Linked DNA regions of Homo sapiens. The protein of the gene in region 1 purifies or fractionates together with the protein of each later gene. This does not show direct contact. Each region holds a gene or a part of one and is shown on either strand. Other genes may lie near its edges. The genes, in order: SESN1 and WDR59.

Region 1 (3,821 bases):
GAGGAAGTCTGCTAGAGGGTTTCTGGGAAAGGTTTTCTTCCCCGAGAGAGAGACGTGGGAAGAAACTCTTTTCTTCTTAGCTGCAGATAGTCATGTCTGCACATGGTGCCTGGAATAGCATGCTGTAGGAATGGAGACATCATTTGCTATGCTGAGGAAGGAGAACAAAAAAAAGAAAGCAGACAAGTAATGTAGTTGAGCCAATGAATCAATCAAGCTTGGAACTGCCAACCTCCAGACTTATTATGTGAAATAATAAACTTATTGTTACATTTTCAATCTATTTATTACTCAATTGGATAGCAACTAGATACTGCAACTCCAACTGTAACTCTAACAGCTATAAATGTGCATCCTACCCAGCAACGAAAGTTTCATTTCTCCTGGAGGTGGGGGGGTAATAATCACTTTACTAAATGAAAGCCTCCACCACCCCACTTACCAAAGATAAGTATTTTGTTGCTTATTCTAAATTTTCTATCTTAAGCCAATTTACTTTCAGACAATATTGATTGCTGGCAAACTTATGAAAATGACCAAATGACCATTCTTGGAAAAGTACTTGGCTATTCTGGATAGGCCTCAAAATCTTTTGATACATATGTGCTCTCATATTTTCCTCCTTAATTACATGTATCATCAAGACTATAGTTCACCAGTAGACTATATTAGGAAAGTGGGCCAGTATTAATACTCCCATTCCTTTGTTTAGAGAATCAAGAGTATCAAAAGGTGTAATTCTTCTTTTTAAAGTTTCTTTAAAAACCCAGTATAAAGCCTTGGATGAGAATAGAAAACCTTCTTCAAAAGCAGGAAACAAGTCTTACTGATCTTCAAGTCCTAAGTACAGTGACTGCCTGGCCCAGAATATTTCTCAAAAATGTGAATATATTTAAACATGCTGATGTGGAATCAATAAATTGAGAACTGGGGTATAAACAAAAGATGCTATCTCCCAATGTGTCCATTTTTTTTTTTTTTAACAGATTTAGCTGCTTGGAATTGAATTCATTCTACCACCTTGTCATCGTTTCTCCCTTGCCAACTACAGCCCTTTTAGCTGACCTATAGCAATTAAGGGCTTTCAGGAGCAGCTGCAGAAATTGCATATGCACCACAGCTTTTGCTGCTTTACTAATGAATAACAGAAAGCATTATGGAGTGCTACATTTGAATTAATATTTGCTTTCTCATGTGAGGCTGATGCTAAAATGGTAGGCAGTGAAGCTGGAGAGGTAAGTGAAAGCCAGATAATGCTGGGTACTATATGACATTAAGAAGTTTAAATTCAATTCTATTCTAAAGGGCTTTTGCCAGTAAAGTTACATAGATTTTCATTTTAGATAAATGGCTCTACAGCTATGTGGAGGATAGATATAAAAGTGGAGGGTGAGTTTAATCTGGAGAAGAAGACATAGCAGTGACAGAACTAGAACAGCGGTATCGGGGGCAGAAATTCATTTAGGAGCTATTTCTACTTGGATGTCTCATAGGCAACTTAAACTCAACATGTCTAAAACAGCAGTCATTTTTCCCCTAAATTGACCCCCTGCCACTCTTTTGTCTCAGAAAACAATTGCACAATTCACCAAGTACCTCAAGCCAAAAACTTTAGAGCCATGCTTAATTTTGTTATTTTCCTCATCTTCTAAATCCAACTAAATACTATATCCTGTGGTTTCTAACTCCTTGATATCTATCAGACCCATTTTAATTTTTTCCACTCCCTCCTGCCCTACCTCACATCCTAGTCCACTATCACTTTTGTCATAGGCTAGTAGGACAACCTCCTAATTGATGTCACACATCCACTTTTGACCATGGAAATCCATTCTCTAGAGTGATCCTTCTGACACACTATCAATCACTATACTACCTTGCTCAAAATCCCCCAGTGGCTTCCATTATTTCTATGATAAAGTCCACAACCCTTAAATAGCCTATAAGCCCCTCTGGGATCTGGTTTCTGCCTAGTAATAGCAGGCATACCTAACATTAACTGAGCATTTCTTTTATGCTAGGCACTGTGCTATGCTTTGCAAACATCATTTATTTTATTCTCACAGCAACATTGTGAGGCAGGAACCATAAGCATAATGCTCATTTTGCAGATGAGGAAACTGAATCAAGGAGAGATTATGTAACTTATTCAAAGTTGTAGAGTTAATAAAGTACAGTCCCATACTGCGTAACATTTCAGCTGATGATGGACCCCCATATGCAACAGTGGCCTCATAAGATTACACACTTGACCCTTGAACAACAAGGGGGTTAGGGGGCCAACCCTCCACACAGTTGAAAATCTGTGTTTAACTTGTGACTCCCTCCAAACTTAGCCAACAATAGCCTACTGTTGACTGGAAACCTTACTGATAATATAAACAGTCAATTAACACATATTTTGTATGTTATACATATTATATACTGTATTCTTACAATAAAATAAGCTAGAGAAAAGAAAATGTTATTAAGAAAATCATAATGAAGAGATCATATATTTACCATTCATTAAGTGGACGTGGATAATCATGAAGATCTTCATTCTTACGGTCTTCACTTTGAGTACACTGAGGAGGAGGATCAAGAGGAGGGGTTGGTCTTGCTATCTCAGGGGTGATAGAGGTGGAATAGGCGGAAGGAGAGGCAGAAGAGGCAGGCATACTCAAGTGTAACTTTTGTTTGTTTGTTTGTTTGAAACAGGGTTTTGCTCTGTCGCCAGAGGGCTGGAGGACAATGAGACAATCACAGCTCACTGCAACCTCGAACTCTTGGGCTCAAGCGATCCTCCTGCCTTAGCCTCCTGAATAGCTGGTACTACAGGTGTGCTCCACTGCACCCAGCTAATTTTTTTTTCTTGACTTTTTGTAGAGATGGGTCTTGCTATGTTGTTCAGGCTGGTCTCCAACTCCTGACCTCAGGAGATCTTTCCACCTCAGCCTTCCAAAGTGCTGGGATTACAGGTGTGAGCCACCCCGCCCAACTTAGTATAACTTCTATTGAAAAAATAATCTTCCTATAAGTGGACTCATGCAGTTCAAACCTATGCTGTTCAAGGGTCAATTGTAATTCTATATTATTACTCTACCTTTTCTATGTTTAGATACACAAATACTTACCATTGCATTACAATTGCCAAAGCGTATTCAGTACAGTGACACGCTGTACGGGTTTGTAGCCTAGAAACAACAGGCTATATAACACATAGCCTAGGTGTGTAGTATCTAGGTTTGTGTGATTTCACCCTATGATGTTCAAACAAATATGATACCACCTAACGATGCATTTCTCAGAGTGTATCACCATCATTAAGTGACACATGACAGTATCGCAGCCAGGTCTGCCAAACTCCAGAGTATGTCCTCTTAAGCTATTCACGCCACCCTCAAACTGTCTGCCCCAGCCATATTGCATTACTTTCAGCTCCTAGAACTCATCTGCTCTCCTTGGCATGAGGCCTTCATACATACCGTTCCCTATGTCCGGAATGTCCCCTCACAAATCTCACCTTTACATGGGTAATATTTATTCATTTATCATGTCTCTGCTTAAATGTCATTGCCTCAGGAAAGCTTTCCCTTACTATCTAAAATTAAATTTTATATTTGTTTACTTCTTTATGGTCTGTTTCCCTTTGGTATGATGTCAAAATTGTTACCACTGGTCCTCAGTTCTCAGAATGACATTCAGCAGGAGTTCAATAAACATTTGTTGCATAACTGCAAGCATAAATGAATGATGCTGGGGTGGAAACTCCCTAAACTGAAAACTTCATCTATTCAGACTACTGATGAAAAACAGAAAGAAAGTATAAATTTGTTCAT
Region 2 (3,821 bases), on another chromosome or scaffold:
AATGGATGTAGTCATGTAACCACTGCCGTAATCATGATGTAGAACGTTTCCATCACTCCAAACAGTTCCTTGGTCCCCCTGTGTACTCAATCTCCATCCCTTATCTCTGGCAGCTGCTGATGGGATTTCTATAACAAATGGAATCATGTGATATGATGTGTAGCCTTTTGAGTCTGGCTTTCATTTTTGTTTTGTTTTGTTTTGTTTTTTGAAGGGACAGAATCTTTCTCAGTTGCCCAGGCTGGAGTGCAGTTGCACAGTCCTTGCTGAGTGCAGCCTCCAGCTCCTGGGCTCAAGTGTCCTCCCATCTCAGCCTCCTGAATAACTGAGTCGACAGGCATATGCCACCAGGCCTGGCTCTTTTTTTTTTTTTTTTTTTTTTTGAGACAGAGTCTCACTCTGTCACCAGGCTGGAGTGCAGTCGCACGATCTCGGCTCACCGTAACCTCTGCCTCCTGAGTTCAAGCGATTCTCTGCCTCAGCCTCCTGAGTAGCTGGGATTACAGGAGCCCATCACCACGCCTGGCTAACCATCTTTGCCAGGCTGGTCTTGAACTCCTGACCTCACGATCCACCCACCTTGGCCTCCCAAAGTGCTGGGATTACAGGCGTGAGCCACTGTGCCTGGCCAGTCCTGGGTAATTTTTAAAAATTTTTTGTGGGGGTGGAATCTGGCTGTTGATGCCCAGGCTGGTCTTGAACTCCTGGCCTCACACAGCCCTCCCACCTTGGCCTCCCAAAGTTTTGGGATTACAGGCATGAGCCACCACCCTACCTGGCGTCTTTTGCTTAGCCTAGTGCTTTTGAGATTCATTCTTGTTGTTGAGCCTATCTGTTAGTGCATTCCTTCTTCTTGCTGAGTAGTGTTCCAGTATATAGACTGCAATTTGTGTATTCATTCACCTGTTTATGGACATTTAGTTTTTTTCCAGTTTTTAGTGACTGAAGAAAGCTGCTATAAGTAGATAAGTATCAAGGCCAATTTTTATTTATTGATTTATTTATTTTTCTTTTTTGAGACAGAATCTTGCTCTGTTATCTACGCTGGAGTGCAGTGGCACGATCTCAGCTCACTGCAAGCTCCGCCTCCCGGGTTCACGCCATTCTCCTGCCTTAGCTTCCCGAGTGGCTGGGACTACATGCGCCCGCCACCACACCCTGCTATTTTTTTGTAGTTTTGGTAGAGATGGAGTTTCACCGTGTTAGTCAGGATGGTCTCGATCTCCTGACATCGTGATCTGCCCGCCTCGGCCTCCCAAAGTGCTGGGATTACAGACGCGAGCCACCGCGCCCGGCTGCATTGTCTCTTTCTTATAGATTAAGAAGAGTGTAAAAATTTTTCTGGATTCCAGTTCTGTATGGTTATATATATTGTAAATCCATTCTCCCAAGTTGTAGCTTGCCTTTTCATTCTTTTTATGGTATTAAAAATTTTTTTTTAATTTAAATTAAAATTTTTTTTTTGAGATGCGATCTCGCTGTTACTGTGGCTGGAGTGCCTATTCACAGTCACGATCATGGTGCACTGCCTCCTTGAACTCCTGGTCTCAAATGATCCTCCTGGTTCTGCCTCCCAAGTAACTGTGTCTGTATTTGTGAGTTACCACTCCCAGCTATGTGCTGTCTTTTGATGAACAGAACTTTAATTTTAATGCAGTTAAATTTATGGATTATGCTTTTTCAGTCTTGTTGTTTTTGTTTTCAGACAGGGTCTCGCAATGTCGCCCAGGCTGGAGTGCCGTGATTTTGAATCAGTGCAACCTCTGCCTCCTGGGCTCAAATGATCCTCCTGCCTTGGCCTCTTAAGTAGTTGGAAATGCAGGCACACACCACCAGGCCGGGCTAATGTTTGTATTTTTTATAGAGCCATGTTGGCCAGGCTGGTCTCGAACTCCTGGGCTCAAATGATCCACCTACCATGGCCTCCCAAATTCTTTTTAAGTCTTCTTAAGAAAAATGTTTAGGCCGGGCTTGGTCGCTCACACCTGTAATCCCAGCACTTTGGGAGGCCAAGGTGGGCGGATCACAAGGTCAGAAGATCGAGACCATCCTGGCTAACACAGTGAAACCCTGTCTCTACTAAAAATACAGAAAATTAGCCAGGTGTGGTGGTGGGCACCTGTAGTCCCAGCTACTCAGGAGGCTGAGGCAGGAGAATCGCTCGAACCCAAAAGGTGGAGGTTCAGGGAGCCAAGATTGCGCCCTTGGACTCCAGCCTGGGCGACAGGGTAAGGCTGCGTCTCAAAAGAAAAAAAAAAAAAAAGAAAAGAAAAAGAAAAACGTTCGTATCCTAGATTCATAAAGAAATTCCTCAATATTTTCTTTTATCTTGAAATTGAAAATGAATCATCTCAGCAGAAAGTATACTCTCTTCTGACCTAATAATGGTTGGTGATTTATTAGTCTCAGCATTGCAACAGCTTTGCCACAAAGATAAAGATTGAGGACTGTGTTTTACTCTAATAAAAACTAAAATAAAAAAGCACAACTCAAATTATTTGGCTAGGAGCAAAATTATAAGTAATTAATAATCTGTGTGTTTTTCTGGAGCAATCCAGCTTCGGTTCCTACTTTTTTAGTTTCATACAATGTTCATTTTGAAAAACTATAGAGATGGAGGGGCAGAATAGGACTTTTTGGTGTAAGTGACTATTAATATGTATACTGTGAAATATTTTTTCTTTTTTAAATAAATTTATATATGTGTATTTTAACATCGAGATGGGGGTCTCACTGTGTTGCCCAGGCTGGTGTCAAACTCCTGAGTTTAAGTGATCCTCCCACCTTAGCCTCCCAAAGTGCTGTGATCACAGGCATGAGCCACTGCACCTGGCCTATTTTTTTTTTCTAGAAAATTTAATATAAAGATGTGGTGATGAATGGGAGAAGAACAAAGACGTTAAGGATTTCGTGCCAGACTGTGTTAAGATTTAGGTTATGCCACCTGTCTTCCATGTGATCTTGGGCAAGTTACTTCCTTTCTAAGCTTCAGTTTTCTTTTTTAAATTTTTTTTTCTTTTTTTTACTTTTTTTTTTTTTGAGACGGAGTTTCACTCTTGTTGCCCAGACTGGAGTGCAGTGGCATGATCTCGGCTCAGTGCATCCTCCACCTCCCAGGTTCAAGCAATTCTCCTGCCTCAGCCTCCCAAGTAGCTGGGATTACAGGCGCCTGCCATCATGTCCGGCTAATTTTTTGTATTTTTAGTAGAGACGGGGTTTTACCATGTTGGCCAGGCTAGTCTCAAACTCCTGACCTTAGGTGATCCACCCGTCTTGGCCTCCCAAAGTGCTGGAATTACAGGCATAAGCCACTGTGCCCAGCCTTGTTTTTTTTTGTTGTTTTTTGAGACAGAGTATTGCTGTCTCCCAGGCTGGAGTGCAGTGGCGCGATATAGGCTCACTGCATTCTCCAACTCCTGGGTTCAAGCGATTCTCCTGTCTCAGCCTCCCGAGTAGCTGGAATTACAGGTGTGTGCTGCCATGCCTGGCTAATTTTTGTATTTTTAGTAGAGACGAGGTATCGCCATGTTGGCCAGGCTGGTCTTGAACTCCTGACCTCAGGTGATCCACCGACCTTGGCATCCCAAGGTGCTGGGATTACAGGTGTGAGCCTCTGCGCCCGACTGACTTCCTTCATTCATAAAACAAGGATAGTAGTGCCTACTTGTGTTGGGGGTTCCCCAGGCCATGCCAGGCTCAGTGACTTATAAGGAGGCTTCACAGTCATATTTGCAGTCATTACATATTACAGCAAAAGGACACAATGCAGAATCAAAGGGAAAAGGCAAATGGCATGAGGTCAGAAGGAAACCAGGCCGAAG

Evidence for each region.
Region 2: the proteins of SESN1 (region 1) and WDR59 purify together in Homo sapiens (co-immunoprecipitation; one study listed by IntAct). This does not show direct contact.

What each region holds. Positions count from the first base shown.
Region 1 is NC_000006.12:109,088,093-109,091,913, forward strand, and holds part of SESN1 (sestrin-1), read right to left. Parts: intron 1-3,821.
Region 2 is NC_000016.10:74,974,883-74,978,703, reverse strand, and holds part of WDR59 (GATOR2 complex protein WDR59), read left to right. Parts: intron 1-3,821. UniProt on the Homo sapiens protein: As a component of the GATOR2 complex, functions as an activator of the amino acid-sensing branch of the mTORC1 signaling pathway. The GATOR2 complex indirectly activates mTORC1 through the inhibition of the GATOR1 subcomplex.